3 linked regions of the Homo sapiens genome follow. The protein of the gene in region 3 interacts with the protein of the main gene of each other region in a biochemical or structural test. Each region holds a gene or a part of one and is shown on either strand. Other genes may lie near its edges.

Evidence for each region.
Region 1: the proteins of FN1 (region 3) and SERPINA5 form a complex in vitro, tested with the Homo sapiens proteins (one study listed by IntAct).
Region 2: the proteins of FN1 (region 3) and VEGFA form a complex in vitro, tested with the Homo sapiens proteins (one study listed by BioGRID).

What each region holds. Positions count from the first base shown.
Region 1 is NC_000014.9:94,576,573-94,584,425, forward strand, and holds the start of SERPINA5 (plasma serine protease inhibitor preproprotein), read left to right. Parts: upstream 1-4,853; 5' UTR 4,854-4,918; intron 4,919-5,042; 5' UTR 5,043-5,138; intron 5,139-7,853. UniProt on the Homo sapiens protein: Heparin-dependent serine protease inhibitor acting in body fluids and secretions. Inactivates serine proteases by binding irreversibly to their serine activation site. Involved in the regulation of intravascular and extravascular proteolytic activities.
Region 2 is NC_000006.12:43,773,211-43,780,210, reverse strand, and holds part of VEGFA (vascular endothelial growth factor A, long form), read right to left. Parts: intron 5,871-7,000; coding exon 5,819-5,870; intron 2,743-5,818; coding exon 2,546-2,742; intron 1,752-2,545; coding exon 1,675-1,751; intron 1,323-1,674; coding exon 1,293-1,322; intron 1-1,292.
Region 3 is NC_000002.12:215,433,029-215,440,540, forward strand, and holds the start of FN1 (fibronectin isoform 1 precursor), read right to left. Parts: upstream 3,041-7,512; 5' UTR 2,775-3,040; coding exon 2,627-2,774; intron 1,797-2,626; coding exon 1,668-1,796; intron 434-1,667; coding exon 296-433; intron 1-295. UniProt on the Homo sapiens protein: Fibronectins bind cell surfaces and various compounds including collagen, fibrin, heparin, DNA, and actin. Fibronectins are involved in cell adhesion, cell motility, opsonization, wound healing, and maintenance of cell shape.

The DNA.
Region 1 (7,853 bases), on a different chromosome or scaffold from region 3:
TCCTCCTTCCCAGCCATCATCACCTTTGTGAGCTCTCTCCCTCTCTGCTCAGGCTTATGCCGAGGGTCTCAGCGTTCTATGCTTCATCCTCTTCTCTTGTCCTCTCCTTGCCCCAGGACACCCCTGATCCCATGTGCTTCCTTCATTTTATTTCCTGTCTCTGTTCTTGCCTCCAAATCTCTCTTTAGACCCATTCACCTGTGTCATCTCTGCCAGCAGGCACCACAGGCCCTTCAGGCTCACTAGGTCCAAAACTGAACTCATCATCCTCCATACAGGCTTCCAAAACCTACCCCTCAGCTCACACCAGGTCCATTCTCCTTCCTTAATGTGTCTCCTCCTCTCCAGCCTCACCCCCGCTTCCTTGGCCCACACCACCATCATCTCTCGCTTGGATTATCACAGCAGTGTCACTTGGTCCTGTCTTGATCTCCAGGTGACCATACCCGTGACAGCCCAAGATAATTTATCCCTCCTTTACTTACAGAATGAAGTTCAACCCTGGTTCCCAACCCAGCAGGACTTCCAAGCCCTCCATCTGGCCCTGATCTGGCTTCTCTCTGTCCTCCCTTCCTCCTCTCTGATGGGCTCCCGGTGCCCCACCACCCCCTTAGCCTGTACTGCTATCACTCCTGTGGTTCTCTCAGCCCAAAATGCAGCCTCCCACTGCTGTGCTGTAAGCTATTCTGTCTGTTCACTCCTCTCCACCCAGCCAGGGCTGATAAAAACCTAGACAAGGTTCAAAAACCCAGATCCAAGGTCACCACCTTCACAAAGCTTTTCCTATTCCATTCCTCTCTCCAACCACGGGAGAATGGACCATTCCTCCCTGTGTGTCTTTATTGTGGAGACATGTGTCAGAGCATCGACTCTCTATCTTTAGTTCATCTATTGAGATATTGATCTCTCTTCTTGAGGCCAGGGGTATTTTCTGGGACATGGTTAGATCTCAATAAACATTGATACTGGAGGGATGAAATGAAGGAAGGATGGATAGAAGGCTATAAGGATGGGTGGATGGATAAATGGATGGATGGATGGATGGATGGATGGATGGATGGATAGATGGATGGATGGAAAAATGGATAGATGGATGGGTGGATGGATGAATGGATGGATGGATGGATGGATGGATGGATGAATGGATGAATATATGGGTGGATGGATGGAAGGAAGGAAGGAAGGAAGGAAGGAAGGAAGGAAGGAAGGAAGGATGGTAGAAGAAAGGTAGTACCAGTATGCTTTAGCTCATGCAGGCAAACAGATGATGGGCAGAGGGAAGCATGGTGGCTGATTACAGGAGGATCATAGCAGATGTTTAAGGCAAGATTGACAGCCCCACAAAGACTGAGAAGAGAAGATAAGAAAAATGGGAAAGTTATTAAGACACAAGACCTAGATCAGGAGCTAGAAGCTGGATCCCAGAACAAGGCAAGAGCCTAATGACTCGAGTAGCCAACTCATCCCAGTTTGCCAAGGTCTTTGCCAGTTTTAGCACTGAATATCCCACACCATCGGAAATTACTCAGTCCCAGCAAATTGGAATGGTTGGTCACCCTACTAGTAATTAAGACCAGTGCCCCACTTCAGAGCAGAAGCATCAGCCAGGCCCTGAGTGACATCTTGTAGGCTCTTGAACTGGTCTCACTCAATCCCCATGAGGCCCAATACCATGGAACAGAGGGCAGGGAGGCTGAGGGCCAAGCAGAGGAGCACCTGTGCTCAGCAGGGCAAGGCATCACAGGGGCCAACATTGGTTTCCCTGCCCTTCTCCCAGAAACCACCTCCCCACTTTGATCCTTTCCCATGCCCTGCTAGGCTCTAGGACACCAAATTCTCATATTCTAGCCACTGGCCCTCCCTAGGCAGTCACCCTGGGTGTTATGGACTGAATTGCTTCTCCCGCAAATTCTTATGTTGAAGTTTTAGCCCTCAGTGTGACTGTAGAGATTGGGCTTTTAGGGAGGTAATTAAAGTTAAATAAGGTTATAAGGGTGGCACTCTAATCTGATAAGATTGGTGCCCTTTTAAGAAGAGGAAGAGTAATCAGAGAGCTCGCTCTCTTCCTCTGCCCAATCCCTCTCTTGGGGGGTGTGTGTGTGTGTATGTGTGTGTGTGTGTGTGTGTGTCCAGTGTGGGCTCACAGGGAAGAGGTCATGGGCGAACAGAGTGAAGGCAACCATCTATAAGTGCCAGAGAGCCCTCACCAGAGACCAACCCTGACGGCACCTTGACCTTGGATTTCCAGCGTCCAGAACTGTAAGAAAATACATTTCTATTGTTTAAGACATCCAGTGTGTGTTTAAGCCAGGCCAGTGTGAGGTATTTTGTTACAGCAGCCAGAGAAGACTGATACACTGGGGTGCCATGCCCCCGAGACTCCTTCCAAATCTCTCCTTTCAAAACGCACCACCCTCAGTCCTGATTCCTTCAGAGCTCTTTCTGCATGGCAGTGGGAGTCATGAGTTACCTCAGACTTTCCCCCAAATTCTCAAGACATTCCTTAAGATGTAAGCTTGGGAAACGGCATGTGATGTCTTTCCCTCGTGGGTGGTCAGAGCACAGACAGCACACACAGGCTGGAGACGGCCCACAGGAAAGGTGGGCTAACCACCTTTCCCAAAGTAGTTTCATCTGGAACCCATTTGGGCGGTGTTACACTAGTTTCTGATGGCTGCTCTAAGAAGTTATCACAAACAGTGGCTCAGACAACACAAAATTCTTCTTTCATGGTTGAAGAGGCCAGAGGCCTCACTGGGCTAGAATGAGGATATTGGCAGGGCTCCACTCTTTCTGGAGGCTCTAGGGGAGGATCCATTCCTTTCCCTCTCCAGCTTCTAGAAGCTTCCTCACTCCTTGGCACCTGGCTCCGACATCACATTGACTTTTCCCTTCCTGCTTCTACCATCACATCACCTTCTTCTGACTCCAATCTCCTGCCTCTTTCTTGCAAGGATCCTTGTGATTGTAATTAGGACCCAGCTGGATAATCCATGACAATCTCTTCAAGATCCTTAACTTAATCACATCTGCAAAGTCCCTTTTGTCATAGAACGATAACATTCACAGGTTCTGGGTATTAGGACACGGATAACTTCGGGGTTCCATTACTCACCCATAACTGGTATGCAGTGCTGATTTCCATCCTGTAGGTACGGTTTAGGGATCTCTAGGTCAATGAGATAATGGACTCTTGCTCATGTTACATGGCATAATGGGAAGAAAGCCAAACCTAGAAAAAGAGGGACTCAGGTTCCCTTGTTAGAGCCTCTTCTTACTAACTGTGGGATTAGGGGCTGATTCCCTGACCTGCTGTGTTCTGTCTTCTCTCCAATTCAATGGGAATGAACTGTGAGGGCACTGAGCAAAAACTAAGGTCTCAATACCTAGTAGTAGTGGGACTTGCCTCTGGATACCCAGTAGTGATCCTGCCGCCTGTTTCTGGATATCCTACAGTAGCAATCCCACCTGTTTCTGGATATCCTACAGTAGTGATCCTGCCTGTTTCTGGATATCCTACAGTAGCAATCCCGCCTGTTTCTGGATATCCTACAGTAGTGATCCTGCCTGCTTCTGGATACCCAGAAGTGATCATGCCTGGTTCTAGATACCCAGTAGTGATTGTGTTTCCTCTAGATACCCAGTAGGTATTGTGCTTGCTTCTAGAGATGTAGTAGTAGCTGGACTTAGCTCTAGATACCCAGTGCTCATCTCTAGACTGGGCTGAGATCAGTGTCTCCCTTGAAGGGTTATTGTAAGGATGAAAAAAGATAATGCGTTTAAAGCACTTGGTGTAGTAGGTGGTCTTTTTAAAAGTGTGAATAAATACTAGTTCTTATTATTTCTGTGGATATCCAACAGCCACATAATTGGGCCCCAAAGCCATGAAGAAGGAAGAGGAAATGTCTTAAAGGTTGTCGATGGACAGTGTTTGCTGAACATCAAAATCACTTTCCAGGTATTACCTCTGATTTGCTCTACCAACTCCACACCCCACCTGCAGCCACATAACCTTCCATGATCACGGCCATGCACAACACACCATGTCCCCCAGGCAAGGGGACCTTAGAAACATAACCAGGCTTGAGACAGCACTCTGCACCGGTGTCTTGGAAATGCTCTTAAGAGTGTATGGCTGAGTTAGGGAACCAGGATTTCAAAGTAGAAAGGGAGAATCTACCCAAGCCCATAGAAATCCTGAATCCACTCCTTTCTCAGCAACAAGCACTGGCCTGGGAGTCAGCCACTTATGCACCAACCCCACTCTGCCCCTAATTAAATGCATGACTTTGAAAATTCCCCTCATTCTTCTGAGCCCCAATTCAGTGATTGGTGCAATCACAGGCTTGGCTACAGTGACCCATTCATTGCAGGCATGGTGAGTCTCTCAATCCCTCTCATTTCCACTAGAATCTAACTGTTGGGATCTATGACCCAGTCAGCATAGCAGGCCTGTGGGGAGCTCTCAGGTTCAAGCATATGCCCCCCCTAATCTACAAGAAATTAGCTGCAGAAAACCAAGGAATAGAACCTGGAAAAAGAGAGGGTTTGCTAGAGCTGTCCCTTTCCCTGTCTCTGGAATGCCAACAATAGGGAGGCTCTTTGGTCTTGTCTCTCAGGAGTGCCCATGCCATTCCAGGAAAATGATGGCCCAGCTGGTGGTGTAAGGCTTGGGGGGCAGCGAGTGGGCATCGTGGTGAAAGCCTCGGGATCAGGGAGCTGCGTCTGCAGGCAGGCCTGCTGGCCGGAAACCTGCCAGGAAAGGAAGGGGCTGTCCCGGGGCGGGGCCAGGGAGGGGTGGAGACAGGGCCGGCTGTGGTCAGTGACAAATGCTGGCTGCAATCCAGCCAGCCCTCTGCCCTTTCTGAGCCCGAGGGACTGCCACCTCCACTGTGTGCACACTCAGCTACGGGACACAGTAAGTACCGATGCCGCAAAGGGAGGTCCCCAGGGCTTGAGGGCATGTGAGGCGAGGAGAGGATGGACTCTAGAGTTTTGGGGTTTGGGGTCTGCAAAGCTCTGAAGGAGTCTCATCTCTGCAGTTTCAGGTATCCAAGGCAGCAGAGGTGAGTGGGTCCCCCGAGCTCTGTGACCTTATGCTCCACACTAACTCTGGCAGAGCCTCCGTTTCCTCATAGGTAAGATGGAAATAATTACACCCTCTGGATGGTGTGACTGAAGATTAAATACAGCGGGTGCTCTCACTCAGCACATCTGGCCATGTCTGCAGACACATTTGGTTGCCACAACTGGAAGGGGGGTGGGGGTTAGTGACATCTAGAGGCCAGCGATGCTGCTGATGATCCCACAATGCCCAGGACAAGATCACAAAGCATCATCCTGTTCAAAAGGTCAACAGGATCAAGGTTGAGAGACCCTGAAATAAGGCCATGGGGACAAAATGTCGGCTGGATAGGAGGTGCTCAGTAAGTGGCAGCTTCTGTTGTTTTCTGTGCCTGGAGTCTTGGGCCTTTAGAAATCAGGAACAATGATCCAATATTATCGGCTTCCGTGAGATAAGGGCATCTTGCCTGGAGGCTGCCACCCAGGCCGGTCATGGCAGCTGCTCATGAAGGACAGTAACAATTTGGCAGTTTGTTAAATGAACAAAATGTAGAAATAAAGTAAGCAGAATTTTTAGTTTTTCTGAAGGTAGGGCTTTTGGCCAGATATGCAGCAATAAAAGAGCAAACTGCTTCCTTGGGCCAGTGTCCTTGCTCATAGATCAGGAAACCGAAGCATGAAGAATACAGGCGGCAGATGCCTGAAGGTAACGGACGTGTTCATGGTGCTGACGGTGATGATAAGTGACAGATGTAGACTCATCTCCAAACTTGTCAGGTTATAGACATTAAATATGTGCAACTTTATGAATAGCAGTCATGTCTCAATCAAGTGGTTTTAATAAAGAAATAATAGGAAGCCAGAGCTGAGAGACAGGGAGGGAGTTGTTCAAGGTCACCTGGCAAGTGAGCTCCGGGGCGGGGAGAGCTCAGCTCTGGGTGGCCAGCCTGGCTTTTTCCACTGCTCAGTGTCCAGCTTGCAGTCTAATGTCTCTGAATTACAGAGAAGGAGACTGGTCAGTTCATTCATTCATTCATTCTACAAAGGTTTATGGAGCATCTCTCCTGACTGCAAGCTCTTGAAGGTGAGAGCAGCACAAATGAGGGTCCCATGGAGAGAGAGGCCGGAATGAAAAATGTCAATGACAAATGCATATATAAAGGCACATGTGTAATTGAAAGAGCTTTGAGAGAAAGAGTCAAGGGACTGTTCCAGAGAATAGCCATGGAAGGGGAAAAGGTCCAGTGTGATAAGGTATTGCAAAGAAGTGACATTTAAGCAAAAGCCTGCAGCCTATGCAGAAGTTGGCCTCAGTGAGAAAGGTTGGGGGAGGGTTCCAGTAGAGAGGGAAGGTATGCAAAGGCCCAGAGTTAGGACAGAACTTGCTGTGTTTGAGAAACTGGGAAAAGAAGAGTGAGCCTGGGGGTATCACGTGATCCAGGGCAGAGCAGGTCCAGGCCAGGTGCAGCCAGGTCACAGCAGCCCTAGTGGGTTAGAGCACAAATCAAAGTTTAGCATTTATCTGAAACACAGGAGTTGGCCATGAGTTTCTTAGGCGAGGAAGCGCTGTGACCATATTTATGATTGAAGGAGATTCTTTTATATGCTGTATATAGAAAGCCTTTCAGGGCAAAGAAAGGAAGCTACTGGGGTAGCCCTGGGGGAGATGAAGGGAGCTTCCACTGGGGGCAGTAAGAAAGCCAGGGAAAGGCGGCAGCTTTAAGACCTGTTTTGGAGATAGAACGGACAAGCTTTGCTGATGGGCTGGAGTGGAACAGGAAGTCAAGATTACTTCTTCTGGGAAGTTCTGTTCCTGGGTCTTTAGGATCTAGAGGAAGCTGTGACTTTGTCTCTCATCTCTGCCTGGGCTCCAAGCCTCACATCCCTTTTTGTAATTAGAAGATATTGGACAGACCGTCCTCACTAACACAATTCCCACAGCTGAGTCCAGGGTAGAACTGGGCAGGACTTCACTGCCCAACACGGGAAATATCAGTCAGCAGATTTGGGTTTCGGGGATGGTGGTGGGCCAGCGGGAAGACTGACCAGGGCCTACCCATCACATCCCCACCACCTCCCACCTCAATTCACCTTGGCCTGAGATGACAGGTGAACATGACTGATCCTCTCTCTTCCCTCTGCAGAAACACTAAAGCCAGGGACCAGGAGAGGGGCAGCCCAACCAAGCTTTCAAAGCACTCAGTAGAGGCTGGTCTGGGGGATGGGAGGCTCCCAGGGCTTCACCTGTCTCTGTCAAAGCCATGTATTTCCACCAGAGGCCCAAGAGTGCGATGGCAAACCCTGGATTTGAAACTAAGAAACGTAAAACAAGCACTGAGGACTCCACTGCCTCTTGAGTGACCTCTCTGACCCTCTGTTTCTTCTGCACTGTTAGGATAATGATACTAACTCCATGTTGTTGTAGAGAAGTATAAATGAGCTAATACAGGTGAACCGCCTGGGGATACCAGGAGGTGAGGTCGAGGAGGAACGAGGTATCACTCCTCAGAGCCACTCAGAGACAGGCTGTGCACGAGTCAGAGGAACCTGGATTTTAATTCCGGTTCCATCACTCAGTAGCTGAAACAAGCTATTCCACTTCACTTAGCCTCAGTCTATTCAATCTGTAAAATAGAGTGAGTTTACTTTTGGAAAACTCTGTAAAATAGAGAGCTTACTTTTGGTGAAGGTTAAACATAGTAATATTTATGGAGTGTCTAGTATGTCTTTAATAATTAGTGGTTTTACTGAAAAGTAGAGAGAGTTGGCCCAGAGGGAGCAAGATTTCT
Region 2 (7,000 bases), on a different chromosome or scaffold from region 3:
GACAGAACCTCTGGGAATCCCGGTGTGGGGGAAGCGGCTACCTTGGGAGCTGGCACGGAACCAAGAGCAACACCAGCCTGCTCAGCACGACCTGGACTGGGAGGCAGGGCTGGGTGTCCTGGAGCCCTGGGCAGGCAGCAGGATGGGGTGGGAGTTAAGGAGGTCTGGGGAGGAGAGGCTTGGGCGGTACTTGGCAGGGAGTTCTCTCCCCAGCCTGTCAAAGCCTGCTACACCATCTCACCAGACACTCTTCCGAGCCCAGGCGAGCCCCCTACTCTCCCCATGGCAGAGCAGTCATTTGGGGAAACAGGAAGGGGGGCAGGCTGTAGCCTGTCCCCTTCAAGAGAACCAGAGCTCTCCATGCCTGCCAAGCCCAAGAGAACACACCTCAGGATGTCTGTCACAGGGAAGAAAGGAGGGGGAGAAGGGACCAGAGAGGGCAAGTCTGTCCCCCTTAGGAGAAAGCACCAAAGGGTGGAAGGAAGGTTTCCGCATCCCCTCGCTCTGGAAGCTGGGAGCTGAGGGAAGAGGCAAGGGGTTGAGGCCTGGTGGGGGCTTCAATGTCCGCACAGCACTGGAGGCAGACAAGATGGTGTGGGGGAAAGGGCAGGGCACAGGTGCTCTCTCTCAGTCTCTCTTTCCCTGCAAGCTCTTGCTGATGCCAGCCGCCCACCCTGTCTTGAAGGGTTACTGCCGCCAGACCTTGTCCCCCACCCCATCCTACCTGCCCCTTAACACGGAGCACTCACAAGCCTCTGAAAATGACCAACATTCAACTTTTTCTCCCTGGCCAAGAGGGCTGTGTGTCTGCCGCCTGCCGCCTACAGGAGGGCATGCACTGAGAAACCACCCTCCAGCCGGCCTCGCATCCAACTGCACCGTCACAGCAGCCACCAAAAGAGGCCATTTCCTCTGACACACAAAAGCTGGCCTCTCTGCCACCCACTCCCTCTCCCCACTGTGGGTGTCCTAGAGCAAGCCAGTGAGCCAGTGTCCACAGTGCCCCCTGACACACCGAAACAGCAAGTCCTGGTCAGGAATGATCTGGAGACCCAGAAGGCATTGTCCCTTCCAAAGGAAGTGCCAGGCTCCTGGCTATGTTTTCTCACTAGCCCTAGAGCCATCATCCTGGAGTTGGCTCCATCCCATTGTTGCTGCCACCACAAGTCCCCCACAAGACCAAGTCCCTGACCCAGGGAGGCTATGGGAGCCCCCAACAGAGGTAGCCAAGAGCCCCAAACCAAGACAACCGGCCATGGAGAGGGAGAAGTGCTAAAGTCAGGGCCACTTACTTTTCTTGTCTTGCTCTATCTTTCTTTGGTCTGCAATGGGTAGGGAGAGAGAAAAGAGCAAAACAGGGAAGGGTTAAGATGGTGATGATAATGATAGGGATAACAACAATAATAATCACAGTAAAAACAGCATTTATTATGGAGCAACACTGTTTTAATCTTTTCATATATAACTTGTTTAATCATTATAACAATGCTATGAAGTATACTACTATTGTGCCCATTTTACAGATGTAGAAACTGAGGCACATTGAAGTAAAATGCCAAAGGTCACATAGCGGGAAGCTGGACGGGGGCCAAAAAGTACAGCATGCTTAACCCTGGCACAGATCAGGCACCCTGCAGCCACTTGCTGATAATGAATCCGTGACTACATCCTCACCTGCATTCACATTTGTTGTGCTGTAGGAAGCTCATCTCTCCTATGTGCTGGCCTTGGTGAGGTTTGATCCGCATAATCTGGAAAGGAAGGAAGCAGATCACAGAGGTTAGTGACCCAGCCAGCCATACCCAGATGGGACAACCCTGGGGCTCCTGCCACTCAGCACCCAGGGGTTCTGCAGAGCAGGGATGGGTGGTGGAGGCAGGGAGGACCAAGAGCTCTAGCAGGAAAGAGGCTCAGGCCCACCCCAACTCCCCCAACCCTGCTGGCCTCAAGGAGCCCTTGTTCCACTTGAGGCCAAGACATGGCTGCAAGGGTTGGCCAGGCTGGGAATTCAAATCCTAGGTTCTTACCACTCCCCATCCCCTCCCCTTCTTTCATCCTCTCTAGGCTTCACCCTGACTCCTAGTAGATACCCGAAAGCAACCCCCTCCCTGTGTTTCACAGCTCCCTCCCACCCTATCTGGGCTGAGATGTGCCCCATTACCAGGTAACACCAAAAGACTTTTTAAACTCTCCATGGACCAGGCTCATCCAGCTTCCCAAACAAAGCCCCCAAGAAGGGGGGGCACTCAGGACTCTCTCCAAGAGAGGGAGAGAGGGGCTCCTGACACAGGCATCCATCTGTCCCCTCCTGAGCCCATGGGCAACCATCAGGGAGAAGGAGATGGTTGGGGCTTGCTGGGAACCTGGGCTGGGAATGAAGCATCTTCTCCACAGAAGGCAAGACCCCACCATACCTCCCCTGTGCAACTCAGGGGCAGGAGCCAGACAAGGCAAATCTAGCCAGGAAACGACCTGGGACCACCTGTTCCCAAAGTGTTACCCCCCTCCCTATCCCCCCCTTGCCCCACTTCCCAAAGATGCCCACCTGCATGGTGATGTTGGACTCCTCAGTGGGCACACACTCCAGGCCCTCGTCATTGCAGCAGCCCCCGCATCGCATCAGGGGCACACAGGATGGCTTGAAGATGTACTCGATCTCATCAGGGTACTCCTGGAAGATGTCCACCAGGGTCTCGATTGGATGGCAGTAGCTGCGCTGATAGACATCCATGAACTTCACCACTGCATGAGAGGCGATGACACATGAGCCCGGTGGGCGACACAAAAGATGGCTAGCCCCTCTCTCCACCCAGCTCTGTAATGCCACTCTTTGGAGCTTCCGAATCAGGCAAGTCCTTCCAAAATCTAACGTAAGTCCCTCCTACTGTGTTTGAAGCACTTCCCTAAGCTTTCCACCATCAACACTGGTGAAGGCCTGTTTTCATTCCAGAGATCACACGATGTACTCAAGTTCCAAGGGACATGGCCTGCCACATCTGATCCCGCCACCTCACTGTGACAGCTGAACTGAATCCTGGGCCAACCTCGATGCCAGAGGACAGTCTGAGTATGGGTATACCCCATGGGGATGCTCTAAGCTTTCCCTAAAAGGAGGAAGAGCCAGCTTTGCCAAGCTAGTCTCCAGTTTCCTACGTCCTCCCCACAACCACTACCATAACGTCAACCATACCAACAGCTGTTTATTGAGCACTTACTACATCCTGAGTACTGTGTACAGTAGTCCACAGCTATCATTTCACACAAGTTTCTCCACATGGTACTATTAGACACTATTGAGATTCCATTTTACAGATGGGGAACAGGAGGCTCAAAGAGGCTAAGTAAGTTGCCCCAAGGCCGCACAGCTAGTAAGTAAAGGAGTCAGAATTAGCTGACATCAAAGTGTTCCCAAGCCTATATTAGGCAAAAACAGAGGAGGCACCTTTCAGGAGGAGGCACCTTTCCCCCTGCCAGTCCTCTTCCCCAGACATGAGCTGAGAAGGTGGTGGGCATCAGCACAGGGGCTGGGCCCTCCTGGAACCCACAGGTGGCAGTGGGCGGACACGCTGTGCCAGCCCTGCCAGCCACTGATAACCCCGCCCAAGAGGGCAAACTGCTTGCATCATGGAAAAAACAGTGCTGCCACTGTAGCCACGAAACATTTCTAGAAGCTGATCTGAAGGGAGACCAGGGTAGAGACAGTTTCCCAGGCTGGCCACGAAGCCTGGGGTGCACTGGAGCATGAAGGGGTAATTCTGGGCCACAGAGGCGGGGCCCTTGAGAATAAATAAATGCAGGACTCTGGCATGACTACTCCAAATTGTGGCCCAGCCTGCCACGCCTATCGCACCCCACCACCACTACCACATAGCAATCCTGTCCCTGAAATAGGTTCCCTACCCAGAGGGAAGAAATAACACCTGGCCAGTGAGGAGGCCCAGGCTCTGGCCATGAGTTGGTATGACCTTGGGCCAGTCCCTCCCCTCTCTAGGCCTCCAACTCTGCTCAACTGTGTAAGTGGGTTGGGCTGATCTCTAAAGATGCTGAAACAGGCTGAAAAAGGTGGTGTTTTGGCTTCCATTTCCAGCCCTAGGAACAAGTGCTCTTTTTTCAGCCTGGGTAATATGAAGTTTAGAACTTCACCAAAGCATCTTAAGTGTATGCTTCGTGGACTTCCACCCCAGCTCCCAACCCCCACCCCCCAGAGACCACAGCTGAGCCTCCCCCTCACTCCTCCCTCCAAGGTCTGCTTTCCAGAAGAATAAAGGACAATGAGGGGGGCTATGTACACAATAGGTTGATTGGGAAGAAGGTGGGGAGAAGGCCACAGGTGTGAAAACAGAAAGAACAGTGGGGAAACAGGCCAGTCCACTGCTTCCTGTGAGGTCTCTATTTCTTTTATCCAGACCACCAATGGGCACAGAATCCTTCTCTACCCACGAAGGGTTACGGCAAAGCATCATCAAAAAGAGTGAACGAGACTAGAAGTCTGAAAAGGTCATTTTTTAAAGCCAAGTCGATAGGGGAGAAGATGACTAATCAAGAAGTTTTGAACTGCCCCTTCATCACAATTGGGACAGAGGAGGGCCAGGCTTGTGGCCCAGGAGGGGATAGCAGGAAGGTCTGGCCTGGGCAAGGGGTTGGTAACTGAGGGTAAAAAGACCTGGGGTAGGAATTCCCCCAAAAAGCTTCCCCTTGGAATGAATCCCCAAGTCCCATGGGAGGTGGAGGCGGGGAACCTCACCCGCATCCTTCATCAGGCAGCCGCCCCTCCAAGGAGGGCTGGCCTCCACTGCCTGGGGGAGCACACACGTACACTCCAACAACCAGGCTTTCGTGGTTTTCCTTATTTATCGCAGACAACCTTTTCTCCAGCAAACAAAGACCTTTGTCCTGCCTCTCCCAGACCAGAGACCACTGGGAAGCTGGAAGGGGTAAGTGGCGCACTGGAAGCAGGGGGCCGGTCAGTGGCTGAGAAGCCAGGTCCTAGGCCAAGGAAAGGGCTCCTGGGGTGGGGAAGGAGGAGGCAGAACAGGCTGGGCATCACCACTGCTGGCCACTACCCAGCCACGCCAGATTTAGGTCAGGGAAACTCGCGGGAAGGAAGACCCCAGGGCCTTCCCTCCCCAGAGGTGGAGAGCACAGGCCACAGTCAGTGGTGGGGAGAGCCAGGGTGTCCCCAGAGAAATGGGAGGATCCAAACCACAACGGAACAAAAGGCAGGCGGACTCGGGGTTGGGCAGGGGGGCGGGGCGCCTGGGAGCTACAGCCAGCCCTCTGCTGGCCTGGGAGGGAAGTTCACAGCACCCGAACATAGTCAAATGGGGTTTTCTCCACCCCCAAAGGAATGCAAACCAGGGAAGGGAGGAGAGATCCCATTAGGCTGAGCCCTCTGTGCCTCCAGCTCACACAGGAAGGGTCACAGTTCCCACAAATGGGACATGTCTATATAGGAAATGACACTAAATGTCCACTCTCCCCTGGGAGCTAGGGGAAACAAGGGACACTTCCCCCAACACCTAGGATCCCTGAACACTGTCTTCCTGCTCTGTGCGCACGACTCCTTCTCCAAATAAAATTTTACTGGAAAGAGCAGAAGAAAAAGGCAACAAGTCCTACTTCTAGCAGAGACCTGAACAGCGGAGAGTCCTCACGAAACTGAGGGTGAACCTCGTGGTGCCCAGCTCTTTCTTTCTTGATCCTTATATTCCTGTGCCCCTTCCCCTTCCTCCCCACAGTTCTGAAGAAAAAGGAATTAGGCCATCCACCCATCCCCTGAGAGGACAGGGAACCCCATCCAACAGCCAGGGGGACTCACCTTCGTGATGATTCTGCCCTCCTCCTTCTGCCATGGGTGCAGCCTGGGACCACTGAGGACAGAAAGAGAGCAAGGCATGGGCATGGGCAGGGGCTGGGGTGCACAGGCCCAGCCACCCAGCCCCTCCTCCCTCCTCACTTCCCTCCCACCAACAGCCTCTGGCTTCTCCAAGTCTTCTGAGTCGAACAGGACACAACCGGGGGTCCCCACGGGCACAGAATATGCCCACCACTCCTGGACTGCTATGGTTATGAACCCGAGGAAGTTAAAGACTAACCAGATGTTGGGGGCTGGGGAGCTCGAAATGCAGGAGGAAAACCCCAGAATGCTTCACTGTCGAGGTCCCCTGTACCTTCCCCACACTTCCCTCTCCCTGCTCTCACTATCCCCCTAGTTCCCTGGTCCAAAGCCATGGTAAGTATTAAGGTCAAATAGGAGGACAAATTTGGACTGGGGCAGGAAGGAAGGACTAGGGGCGAGAAAAACAACATGGTGACCTTCTCCTGCTGACATGACAAATACCAGGGTGAGCTGGTGTTGGAGACGGAGGGGGGTGCCGAGGACCGAAGGGCACCAACCACCCTCCCCCATCCAAGCTCTTCTAGTCCTTAGGAATAACCCAGCATGCCCACAGGTTGCTTAGAGGGTAAAAACCCAGGAGGAGACCCTGGGGGAGAACCACATTTTCCTCTCTACACAAATCTCTCCAGAGCCTCAATAGATTTCCAAAGCCTCACCTGTCTCCCACTCCTACCTGTTCCCTGGTTTCTTCTCCCTCCCAGGGTGAGGAGGTGCCAAGCCCCTCTCACCTGGGCACCTTCAAATGCCACCAGGGACCAGGGAAGGCTTTTATGCCTTGGCACTGCCCAGCCCCTAGGGGGCCCCCTGCACCACCTTAGGCCTGAGGCCTCCTCTAACCCTCCCCACCCGCATCAGATCATTCCTCCCCTCGCCAGAAGCTGTGAAGGTCAACACGCCAAGACATGCGGACCTGACAGCACCCAAAAGGAAAGGCTTCTGCCAGCCCTTCCTGGGGGTCTCCAGCTCTCACCAACTCCCCTCCCGCCCAGCACTCGCAGAGCAGAGGGGCACTCTAGCCTACGGAACACCAGACCCTGCTAGGGGAGAGTCCCACTGTCCATCTTTCTTTCCCTCTCCTTCCCACACACCCCAAATGCACCC
Region 3 (7,512 bases):
TACTGAAATGGAACCCAAGAGGTCTCTTGGTTCTACTATGTACAGAAACACACACACTCATAAATGCACACACACTCATAAACGCACACACATCAAACACTGATTCCATCTGTGCTCATACCCGTCTTTAAGAAACACAGGAACCAGTTGGGTGACCACTTAAGAGTACCTGGTCACCAGGGGCAAACCTCAAAGTTCGGAATATCCAGTCATGGATAACAGAAAATGACAGTGATGGTAACAGAGAAATTCATATTTGATATTTTGGCATCATTTTACACAATCTCTTCCTTACTTGCGATGGTACAGCTTATTCTCCCTCGCCCAGCCCCGATGCAGGTACAGTCCCAGATCATGGAGTCTTTAGGACGCTCATAAGTGTCACCCACTCGGTAAGTGTTCCCAGTGTACTTGTCAAAGCAAGTCTCTTCAGCTGAGGGGAAAAGGAAAGTCCATGTGAGCCTCACTTAGGTACAAGCTTTTCTAGTTCACTAATCCCCTCTAAAGGAAAACCCACTTCTCTATTCCACAAGTAACATGGTACACCTCAAAGAATAAAATGAAGTGAGAGATACAGATTTTTATCCTAAGCTCTAATAAGGCCATGGTTTTTGACCTTGACATATTGTCAAATTTTCTGTAAATTATTCATATTGTAGAAAAATCTCAGGCTCTTAGGAAAAGGCCATATAAAGTACTAACTTATGACAGAGCTAGATTTGTGAAGGGTTTCACATTCCAATCTCTGACTCAGAAAGTCAAAGCAAGGTTCACATAAAAAGCAAACGATTGGCCGGGCACAGTGGCTCACGCCTGTAATCCCAGCACTTTGGGAGGCTGAGGCGGGTGGATCACCTGAGGTCAGGAATTCGAGACCACCCTGACCAATACGGTGAAACCCCGTCTCTACTAAAAATATGAAAATTAGCTGGGTGTGGTGGCATGTGCCTGTAGTCCCAGCTACTCAGGAGGCTGAGGCAGGAGAATTGCTTGAACCCTGGAGGCAGAGGTTGCAGTGAGCTGAGATAGTGCTACTGCACTCCAGCCTGGTGACAGAGCAAGACTCTGTCTCAAAAACAAAACAAAACAAAAACAAACAAACAATTCGAAGATCCCCACCTCCCACAAGGCCTTGACAGTTGTTAATCCTATGATTTCCATTTTCCCCTGATCAGTGCTTCTCTGACAGAGTTGCTATAATTTATGAGAAAAATATCATTGGTCCTAAAGGAATGAGAACTTTGAAGTGGCTAATGGTTTTGTGTTAACTGCCGCTGACAAATCATTTTACGATGTAAGTCCCCAAAGTGTTTTCTGGCTCATAAACTAACAGTTTAAGATTTGAGACTGCTTTCTAATAAATTAAAATTTTATAAGCAATTTTTTTTGTCGGAGGACACACAAAATCTTTCATTTTTCTCATCAAAAACTTTGGGAGAGTAAAGCAAAAAGAAGACTCTAGGAACTAATTTGGGAAAGATTCGTTTCTTTGTTTTAAAGGTAAAAGCATGTGAAAAGCAAATATAAGCAGTTTTTAAACTTAAGAGGAAATGACAGGTAATTCTATTAGAAAAATGGTGTATGTATTTTTACTTACTAATGCAAAGTTTAACAATTACCACTTCATGTATTAAAAGATACTAACTATGGGGCTTGTTGTCACTTACCTTCAGGTTTACTCTCGCAGTTAAAACCTCGGCTTCCTCCATAACAAGTACAAACCAACGCATTGCCTAGGTAGGTCCGCTCCCACTGTTGATTTATCTGATAGTGTTTTCCATTGTCATAACAACCGGCTGCAAATAATTGAAGGAAAACGTTACATTTGCATTTCTCCTTTTCCCAAAATTATGGAATTTTCTTCATGTGAATATTGACGTACATATTTTTTTCCTTTTAACTTTGCTAAAAGTTATATACAATGATGTCATTTCCATCTGGCCAGGGGTCTACATAAAAAAGTTGGAAACATTTTGGAAGGCAGACAATTGAAGTCACATTTTTAAAACATGCAAGGAACTTAAATATTCTTTTGGAGTAATAGTCAAAAAGGACAACTTTAAGCAGCTTTCTCAAAGCAAAAGGAGGGTGTGTCTTTGAAAAACGGAAAGAATTCCAACCTCTGTTCTTGGTGAAGTATCCTGAGCGGCCCTAAAGAGGTCTGAACCAATTACATCTCTTCCAAGTTAGTTAGAAACAAGACAGCTATTTCAATACCCCCTTTCCACCCCCATGTTGAAAATATTTGACCAATTATTTAACAGAAGGAAATAAGTAGCAGTAAGGACCACACTAATCCCAGACGGAAAATTTATAGACATGCATCATTTTTCTCTTTAAAGGCAAGTTTTGGTTAATTCCTAGAAGGACAATCTGAACGTGCAGAATTTATTAGAACACGGGAAAGTCGCAGAGTCCTCGTCCTCCAATGCACGGTCTTATCATCCCAGGCCCTCAGAACCAGCGTGCTCAAAACTCGGTCCTTTTGTGTGCACAGCTGGTTTCTCTCAGTAAAGCGCGCACACACTCGCACACACGCGCGCGCACAAAACTTCAGCCCCAACTTTGGTCGGCTTTAGGGTCCCATCCCTGAGGCAGCCTGTTTCAGCCCGCGGTCAGTACTCACGCTTGCTTTGACTGACAGCCACCGGGGACTGGGGCTGAACCATTTGCTGAGCCTGCCTCTTGCTCTTCGAGGCTCCCGTGGAGGGCACCGCTGTCCCCAGGCACTGGACGGCCAGCAGCAGCAGCCCGGGCCCCGGACCCCTAAGCATGTTGAGACGGTGGGGGAGAGACGCCCGCACCGGGAGGCAAGTTGCCACCAAGTTTGCTTCCCTTCGCAACCTGCGGGAAAAATCCCTTCTAATGCCTCCCGGGGGTTGTCGCCTCCAAGAAGGTGGGGGCCAGAGGGTGGGGAAGGGGACGGGTGGAGGGACAGAAGGGATGCAGAGGACCAGAGAAGTTGTGGCTGCAGGTCCCCTCTTCCCGCTCGCGCCTGGGGTTCCCTCTCCTCCCCCTGTGCAGCACAGCCGGCGCGGGCGTCCGAGCGCCGGGAGCCGGGGCTTATATGGGACGGTCCCCTCCCGCCCCTCTGGAGGCCCGGGGCGCGGGGGAGGAGAGACCCGCCGGGCTGTCCCCGCCCCGCCCCACCCCACCCGCCCGCCCGCCCGCCGGCCGCCGCAGCCGACCGCGCGCCGATTGGCCCGGGCTCCGGGTGACGTCACGGGGGACTGTGGGTTCGCAGCGAACAAAAGAGATGCTGATGGCCCGCCAGGACTGGGGCAAGACAACTTTTTTTCGGTTTCCTTTGCGGTCATCAAACTTTTTAGGGGATGGGGGAAGGGATGGGAAGCGGCTGGGAGGAAAGGGAGTGGCTGGACTTGTGTGAAGCGAAGGGGTTGCAAGACGCTCCCCCTTCCCTTTTCTTTTTTATTGGGGGTGGTGGTAGTGTTTGAGGACATTGCGTCACCTCTCTTCGGGGTGGAGGGGGGGAATCTCTGCTTATAGGAGTGTATTTTGTGAGGAAGAAAACCCATAAAATATCCACGACCTTGCAGCTGTTAAGAATCCAGACTTTTCAGTCCCAGGGCGGGGCTGCCTTTCCCCCCATCCCGCTCCCTTTCTTTGGACTAAAGGGTACTGACTCGGGACTCCCTTATTTTGTCTTCACAGCTCCCTGTTCGGACTTCTTCCCTTCTCAGCGCTGTGCCTGTCTGGCTCTGAGAAAGGGCCAGCGGGCGAACGGGGAGCAAAGGGGAACAGAGACCTTTAATGAGCTTCTACTAAGTACCGGGAGTTCCGCGGGGCGCTTTGCAGATCCCGGGGAAGTTCAGAGAATGAAGTTTTCTTTTGCAAGGACAAAGTAACAGTTTACTTTTTTACACATGCAGGAAAGCCTTCCTTTCCTGGGGATGGGACGCCCGTTTCCACTGAAAGTGAAATCACTGTGAACAACCTGAAAATTGGAAAGTTGGACCAGCTGTGGGGAGAGAAAGGTCTTCGTGTCCTTTCCCACGTTCACCGTGCCAGTTACACACAAAGCAGAGATTTTTTTGCTTGAATCATTAAAAGCCGGGTGGGTGGGGGGCACCCTATGTACTGTCTTGCCCTCCTTCGGCCCCTTTCTCACATTTATTTGCCATTTTCTTTTTGCTGACAAGTTCCATTACAGAATGCCCCCTCCATCCCCCGCCGCCAGATTTTTTATATTTCAATTGTTATTTACTCCAAGAGTGTGGAAAGTTCTCCTTTAAGATTCCCCCGCCTTGAACTCTAAACTCAGAGTGGAAAGGGAATCTGAAAAGTCTCTCATTTAGCAACACATCACATCAGTCCTTTTTGTCAGATAAACACAGGCACAATTGCTTTTAAAGATCTTCAGAAGGAGGAGTCCACCACTTCCACAGTAGATCCAGAGAGACCCGAACTGAATGCTTTGCCTTCTCCTTGTGTTAGGAGTTCAGAGGTTCCATTTGCTTTAAAACACAAGAAGCTACTAATAAAATATATTTATTTCGGCAAGGTACCTATTTTCTCCAAAAGTTTCACCTTCAGTAATTGCCACAGGAGTAATTAGAACTCTGTGTTCTATAAAATGCCTGACACATTAAAGACACAAAATTAGCATTTGTTTTTATTCATGCAAGGATTTAAAACCAAACCAAAACAAAGCAAAACACCCAGCAAATATCAGTTTCCTACAAATAGTGTAAAAAAACCTCTTGAGGAATCTTTGTGACCCACACTCCAAATTGAAAGAGTGCCATGGATTTCCCCAAATTTAGAATCCTGTCTGGGTTAGAGGATTTTTTTGGAATTTCTCATCACTTGACAAAACAGTTTTCTCTTTTCAAATATAAAAGAGCTCCTTGTAAAATGCTTGGTAAATTTCTGGGAAGCCGAGTGTTTCTTCCAGAGGGAAGGATACCTGGAAATCCGGATGTAAGCAAGATAAACCTGTAGCTAAAGCTTTCTTAAAATTCATTGATTCTGGGGGAAGGAAATAAGTGATTAGAAAAGTATTTGGTCAACCAAAACCATGATAGTTTGATATATTTACTGCACTGAAAATACACTAGAATCATATGCATAGTGGAGCTTGAAGTGGAAAGCCCACCTTACATTTTGGAAGAAACTTTTATATTTCAATCCCATAGATATCTAATTTATTTAAGGAAACAGGATATCTCTGTCTCATAAGAAAAAAAATAACATCTGACTGATTTTTATAGGAATGCTTGGGAGTTTACTCTTTTACTTGAAAGGTTTTTTTTTTTTTTGCCTTTTTTTTTAAACTTTAGAAACAGAGGCGTTTCTTAGTTAAGATAACAGGGCTTACTACAGTATTCTTTAATTATCAAGGTCCCTTGTAACTCTAAGTCTGTTATCTCTAATTGGAGAGATAATTAAATCTTAAAGACCACTCTGACTCTAATTCAACCAACGTGTGTGGTGTCCAGGATCGTTGGACTTCCTTAAGAATTCTATTTTATCCAGGTGGGTTCTTCCTCAGTAAATTGTATTCTCCTATTGGTAGGAAATACTCTTGGATTTCTTTCTTTCTTTCTTTTTCTTTCTTTCTTTCTTTCTTTCTTTCTTTCTTTCTTTCTTTCTTTTTCCTTCTTTCCTTCTTTCTTTCTAAAACTGTATTCAGAGAGAGAAATGTGACAAAAAAAGGGAAATCAATAGAGACAGAAAGTAGATTCATGGGTACCCAAGTTTATGGGCTGGGAACAGGAATTAACTGTAAAAGGGCACAGGGAATCTTATTGAGGTGATGGAAATCTGTGTTCTAAAACTACATTGCAGTGATGACTGTACAATTTGGTAAAAGCTTCAAAATTCTGGGGATTATACACAAAATGAGTGAATTTTACGGTATGTAAATTATGCTTCAATAAAGTTGTTTTTTTCAAAAGTTGATTTTAAAAATTAGTATTTGTTCTTTTTTACTCTTAACCATCTCCTGATTTTGGTTTCAAAGACTTGCTCTCAGGTAGCAGCAACATACACAAGGCGTCCTCATTTCTTCATTTTTCTGAGAGGAAGTTTGCCTTGAATATAGTAGTGGATTTCTTCTACACCAGTAACTCCTTCTGAAACCTACTATTTGTGTGAAGGCATATATGTGGTAGAGACAGAACAAATCTTCATTTAGGACTGTGCCTTGTTTCTTCTTGGAATTGCCATAGTGATAGAATTTTCCCAGAGCCTCAGGCAATTTAAACTTTTTGTAACAAAAAGAAGCACATATATTTTCGGGAACTAGGGGGGTGTGGGTGGCGGGGGGCAATGGTATTGGGAAATTTTATTATTCCAGAAGGTTAAGGAGGAGCATGAGCAATTATGGAAATCTGAATTAAATTGATTTCATTTGTTTTGAAGATTAGCAATGGAGACATTTGATTAAGCACAAAAAATAATTGATCAGATCCAGTCATTTAGAAGGACTGAAATAAAAACAGGCTAGGTGTGGTGATTCATTCCTGTAATCCCAGCACTTTGGGAGGCCAGTGTGGAAGGGTCACTTAAGCCCAGGAGTTCAAGTCCAGCCTGGGCAATATAGTGAGACACTCTTAATAATAATGATAATAATAACCAGATATGGTGACAGGCACCTCTCGTCCCAGCTATTCAGGAGTCTGACATGAGTCCTGGGGGATGACTGGAGCCCAGAAGATCGAGAGATCAAAGCTGCAGGGAGCTGTGATCACACCACTGCACTCCAGACCCAGCCTAGATGACAGAGCAAGATCCTGTCTCAAAAATTTAACATTTAACATTGAAATGTTAAATGTTAAAGGTTACATTTAAATATGTCACATTTAGATGTTACATTTCAAATGTTACATTTAGGTGTAACATTTAATTGATGGGCTGTTTTTCCTGAAACCTTTGGCTTTTATCCTGTTATTAATTTCTTCCAGTTCTGCTAGAGAGGAGGCCATTGACTCTGGAGAGCTCGAACTTTCATTTCATCTTCTTCTATAGGTAGATTAGAGGGAGATAAATTAGGGTAGTTTTTTTTTTTTCTTATTTTGAATTTTTTTTTTTTTTTTGGCATAAAATGCTTCCCTTCTTCCTTGAAAATGGCCACGTTTACAAAAATGTTACTCATTAACCACAGGTGTGAGAAGTTAAAAATAAACTTCCCTGCGGGCAGCCCTCGTAAGTAGAATGTCTGAAAAGTTTGTCAAGAATTGACAGGGTGCCTGCAACCAGGGAGAAAATACTGGATAAGGGCTTTAAATTATGCCATGAAAGCTAACCAGTTTTCGCTTAATAGGCATTTTGTTTACATTTTAAGTGACTTTATTTTTTAATCAGCACTTTTTAAAAGCCTTAATCTATGCTTTTTGCTTCTTAACAGGAATATTCTTTTCTCATTAGAGTGATGTAACTCCCAACAGGCATGGCAAAGGTGTTTAACTTATCCAGTAAAATGGGAACTAACTACTGTGTAGCTGGAACATGTAACCAAAACTGTCTTGGAGAACATTTCATCTTTCCAAG